Linked DNA regions of Homo sapiens: region 2 is linked to region 1. Evidence: fine-mapped expression QTL. Tissue or cell type: nucleus accumbens. Region 1 holds a variant in brackets; the other region holds the start of a gene. All regions are shown on one strand. Distances are between the middles of the regions.

Region 1 (2,685 bases):
GAGGAGGTAAGGATGAATCAGGCCTTGAAGATTACGCTTTTCGGCTATGGTGACAATAAAGGACTGGGCCTTCTGGCTTCCAAGCAGAAATTATTATAAATTATGAGACCTGCAGAGAACTAGTTCTGAGCTAGCTGTGAAGTTGTATTGCATATTGGAGTGTTTTTGTTTTGTTTTGTTTTTTTCCACATTAGTGGTTGTCCACCTTCACTGCACTTTAGGATTACTCAGAAAGCATTAAGAACAGATGAATAGGTGTCAGCCTACATTAATTAAATCAAAATCCTGAGAATAGGGCCTATGGACACTAGTGTTTAAGAGTTCATAGGTGATTCTAATACGTAGTCAGTGATACCAGCAGAACTACTGTTTTACCTTGTCCCTGAAAAAAAACTTCACTGATCACCTGAGTGTAAAGGAGATTGTGGGCAGGTTACTTAAGGGTCATCTCCTAGACTGTCTCCTAAACCCCCTTCAAAGCACATCTACCACACGCAAGGCTAAACCTTTTAGATACCTTATAGGTAGAGGGACAGGAAACTCACTGCCCCATCGTGGGACAGGTCCAGTGCTTTGAAAGTGCCATCCAGTCCAGTCACCACACCCTGAGTCATTCCTCTGTTCCAGGCACTACTTCAGGTGCTCGATAGAGATATAGCAGTAAACATGCCTCAGAGATGACACTGAGATTACATTCCCCATTAAAATACTGTAGATCTGTTCTTTAAAGCAAAGCCTGCAGAACTCCATTCATTAACTATTTATTTTATTTTATTTTATTTTATTTTATTTTATTTTATTTTATTATTATTATACTTTAAGTTTTAGGGTACATGTGTACAATGTGCAGGTTTGTTACATATGTATACATGTGCCATGTTGGTGTGCTGCACCCATTAACTCGTCACTTAGCATTGGGTATATCTCCAAATGCTATCCCTCCCCCCTCCCCCCACCCCACAACAGTCCCCGGGGTGTGATGTTCCCCTTCCAGTGTCCATGTGTTCTCATTGTTCAATTCCCACCTATGAGTGAGAACATGCGGTGTTTGGTTTTTTGTCCTTGTGATAGTTTGCTGAGAATGATAGTTTCCAGTTTCATCATGTTTTATGGCTGCATAGTATTCCATGGTGTATAAGTGCCACATTTTCTTAATCCAGTCTATCGTTGTTGGGCATTTGGGTTGGTCCCAAGTCTTTGCTATTGTGAATGGTGCC[G/A]CAATAAACATACGTGTGCATGTGTCTTTATAGCAGCATGATTTATAGTCCTTTGGGTATATACCCAGTAATGGGATGGCTGGGTCAAATGGTATTTCTAGTTCTAGATCCCTGAGGAATCGCCACACTGACATCCACAATGGTTGAACTAGTTTAGAGTCCCAACAACAGTGTAAAAGTGTTCCTATTTCTCCACATCCTCTCCAGCACCTGTTGTTTCCTGACTTTTTAATGATCGCCATTCTAACTGGTGTGAGATGGTATCTCATTGTGGTTTTGATTTGCATTTCTCTGATGGCCAGTGATGATGAGCATTTTTTCATGTGTTTTTTGGCTGCATAAATGTCTTCTTTTGAGAAGTGTCTGTTCATATCCTCCGCCCACTTTTTGATGGGGTTGTTTGTTTTTTTCTTGTAAATTTATTTGAGTTCATTGTAGATTCTGGATATTTGTCCTGTGTCAGGTGAGTAGGTTGCGAAAATTTTCTCCCATTTTGTAGGTTGCCTGTTCAGTCTGATGGTAGTTTCTTTTGCTGTGCAGAAGCTCTTTAGTTTAATTAGATCCCGTTTGTCAATTTTGGCTTTTGTTGCCATTGCTTTTGGTGTTTTAGACATGAAGTCCTTGCCCATGCCTATGTCCTGAATGGTATTGCCTAGGTTTTCTTCTAGGGTTTTTATGGTTTTAGTTCTAACATGTAAGTCTTTAATCCATCTTGAATTAATTTTTGTATAAGGCGTAAGGAAGGGATCCAGTTTCAGCTTTCTACATATGACTAGCCAGTTTTCCCAGCACCATTTATTAAATAGGGAATCCTTTCCCCACTGCTTGTTTTTGTCAGGTTTGTCAAAGATCAGATGGTTGTAGATATGTGGTGTTATTTCTGAGGACTCTGTTCTGTTCCATTGATCTATATCTCTGTTTTGGTACCAGTACCATGCTGTTTTGGTTATTGTAGCCTTGTAGTATAGTTTGAAGTCAGGTAGCATGATGCCTCTGGCTTTGTTCTTTTGGCTTAGGATTGACTTGGCGATGCGGGCTCTTTTTTGTTCCATATGAACTTTAAAGTAGTTTTTTCCAATTCTGTGAAGAAAGTCATTGGTAGCTTGATGGGGATGGCATTGAATCTATAAATTACTTTGGGCAGTATGGCCATTTTCACGATATTGATTCTTCCAACCCATGAGCATGGAATGTTGTTCCATTTGTTTGTATTCTCTTTTATTTCACTGAGCAGTGGTTTGTAGTTCTCCTTAACATCTGTTAAGGAGATTAATTAACATCTGTTAATGAGAACTTTCCTCGATTAAATATTCTGTCATTGGAGATTGGTACATTTCTTTGTCAAGGGCAACAGTTTTTAAGCCATTCACATACACACGTTCCTGGGAGAAGTGACACTGGGGAGATTTTTTTTTAACCCCTGAAAATGAACATATTGGAGAATACATTCATGATCTCTCCACAGGCT
Region 2 (2,685 bases), 220 kb before region 1:
AGAAACTTAAACAAATTTATTTTAAAAAAAAAGAAGAAGAAGAATAAGCCAGGATCTGTGGCTCATGCTTGTAATCCCAGCACTTTGGGAAGCTGAGGCAGATGGATCATGAGGTCAAGAGATCCAGACCATCCTGGCCAACATGGTGAAACCCCATCTCTAATAAAAATACAAAAATTAGCTGGGTTTTGTGTCACGCACCTGTGATCCCAGCTACTCAGGAGACTGAAGCAGAAGAATCATCTGAACCTGGGAGGTGGAGGTTGCAGTGAGTCGAGATCATGCCACTGCACTCCATCCTGGTGACACAGCAAGACTCCATCTCAGAAAACAACAACAACAACAAAAAGAAAACCAAAAACCTAATTAAAAAGTAAGCAAAAACATGAACAGATACTTTTCAAAAGAAGACATACATGTGGCTGACAAGCATATGAAAACAAAATTCACGTTGTTAATTATTAGAAAAATGCAGAGAAAAACCACAGTGAGATACCATCTCATCCAGTCAGAATGCCTATTGTTAAAAAGTCAATGACAGATGCGGGCTAGGTTGCAGAGAAAAAGGAATGCTTATATGTTGTGGGAATCAGGAGGCCGGAGAGATCACTGGGTGCAACAGGAAGGTTTTATTTAGGTGGCCACTGGCCCAGCGGATTAACATCCAAAGGCTGAGCCCTGAACAAAGACAGGGCTTGACTTTTATACATGCATCAGGCAGGGGCAAGTCGGGTTTTTGGCGCAAAACCTGCGAGGTGAGAAAGCAGTCTTACAGAAGCAGAACAAAGGCAGTTAATCATACCGTGACAGGTTTTACAACAGGATTTGCAACATGAGCCTACCTTACTTAAACATGTCTTGTGACCTTGCCATGCTACAGAAAGAAAAACAAGAACTTACAAAATCTTTACAGACTTGCAGAAATAGTTACAAAAATAGTTGTGAGAGCAGAACAAAGAATAATGTTATGGGGAGAGAATTTCAAACAGGGAAACTGATAAGGAGAACTTGTTTTTCTCATCCCTGCTCCTGGAGCCCACTCCTTCGGAGCCCCTGCCTGGCCTTGCAGATAATTATCATAGCTCCAGCAGGACTTTGGAGTGAGTCAGACTGGTCAGGAAAGGACTTGTTTTCCCTTTACTTGTTTTTCCTTTTATATTTCCTGCTTCATTCCCCCCTTTGATGCTTTTTATAAGTAAAGTTTAAGAGAAAGCATCACTATCTTCATTTACTTCAAGAGGAAGTAGCTCTTTTCTTGGCAGGGGTTAATACTTAGTTAGGGCCATTAGTCGTGTGGTAGTCCGTCTGTCCACAAGAGCCTCTATGGCTGTTTGGATATTTTTGACAATGAGGGGTAAGAGACAAGGGAGTATAAGGCAAACTCCCAATATGGCTAGGACTATTTGTACTAAGGTTTTAAATCCTCCAAGGGATGAGAACCAACCTCTGAAAAGGGAATCTGGAGACTATCCTTTCCAAGTCTGAACTGGGATGTGAGCTAACTTTTGGATTTTAGCAGTTATTTCTTTGATGACCTTTCCTTCGTCATCAAGTTCCAGGCAGCAGTTAGTAAGGTTGAACTTTCCGCATACTCCCTCTTCCTGGGCTAGGAGGTAGTCTAAGGCCAGTCTATTTTGATAAATGACATTTCTCATTTTTGTGGCTTGCTGGGCAAGCAGATTCAAGGCCCCTGCAGTTTCATTGGTAATGATTTCTAGTACTGCCTGCAATCTTATAATGCGGTTAAGCATGTAAACTGGGGTGCGGTATCCCCACATTCCATCTTCTGCCCAGGTGGCTGGGCCATAATATTGAATTATTCTTTCAGGAGGCCATTCATTGTCCTTCCAATCTCCTATAGTTATGCCTCTTTTGCTTTTCCTTTTAGTTTCATCATAGATGGGGTATCCTAAGGCTTCTCCCTGTTTTAGGGGCATTAGGAAGAAGGACGGCCTAATTGTCCCCAGTACACAGGCCCCTGACCATTTAGCTGGCAGTTGTCGATATGCTTGTGGCCCACAGATCCAGTAGAGGCCAGAGGGTGCCTGCCAGGTATTTGGAGCTTCAAGTTGGTACCAAGAATGGTTTAAAGATGGGAAACGAGAGAATGGGCTTGGGTGTGGTGATTCAGAATTATTGCTTTTGCCCCTCCATAAAGTCTTTCCTAGTGTCTCGTTGTAATATTGTTGTCCTAGGCAAGTTAACTCTCCTACTGGGTCTGTAAAGGCCTTTCCCCAGCGAGCAATACAGAATTTTCCAATAATGGAGGTTTTTAAGAACCAGATGCTCTGACTTGATGGTGCAGGTTCGAGGGAAGAGGCGGTTAGTGTGAAATTATCTTGGGGCATTAGTTCCCTTGCTTCCCATGGCCATTGGTCTCCCATGTTCATTCCCCCACAGACATAACATGAAGCAACGTGCAGGCTGCTGGCTATGTTTTCAGCCAGTTGGGCGAATAAATTACTGGCCAAGGGAGGGGGCTCAGGCAATTTCTGGTTAACATGCTCATAGAATGACTCAAAAACTCGGAACTGTTGGGTTGAGCGGGTCCGAGTTTTCTTTATGATATATAGATAGACATAGGCTCCTGGGCCAATTTCTTCACCGCTGACTCGTGCCCCTAGCGGTGCTTTTAAACCTGTTGTCCATATGGGCTGATCTGGCTCTAAGATGGTAAGATTTACA

Which allele goes with the higher level. Alleles are on the strand shown, and positions count from the first base shown. SD is a standard deviation of normalised expression in the study named.
As copies of A replace G in region 1, the expression in nucleus accumbens of the gene that starts at base 1,291 in region 2 goes down (large effect, 2.2 SD a copy in GTEx).

What was found. PIP is the estimated chance that this variant, and not a neighbour inherited with it, causes the effect.
Region 2: it holds the start of ZNF117, and the variant in region 1 is fine-mapped to the expression of ZNF117 in nucleus accumbens (GTEx, PIP above 0.99). The same link has a PIP of 0.9 or more in ileum.

The regions. Positions count from the first base shown.
Region 1 is chr7:65,213,782-65,216,466 of GRCh38, forward strand. It overlaps the pseudogene INTS4P1. Among named protein-coding and RNA genes, the nearest start is that of SNORA15B-1, 140 kb to the left of the region's middle. The variant G/A (reference allele first, on the strand shown) is at 1,218.
Region 2 is chr7:64,989,746-64,992,430 of GRCh38, forward strand. It overlaps ZNF117 (zinc finger protein 117), which reads right to left and starts at 1,291. Exons shown (of 4, transcript NM_015852.5): 1 at 202-1,291. The region is part of intron 1 of ERV3-1-ZNF117 (ERV3-1-ZNF117 readthrough); the gene reads right to left. It overlaps ERV3-1 (endogenous retrovirus group 3 member 1, envelope), which reads right to left. Exons shown (of 2, transcript NM_001007253.4): 2 at 611-2,685. The coding sequence ends at 1,467.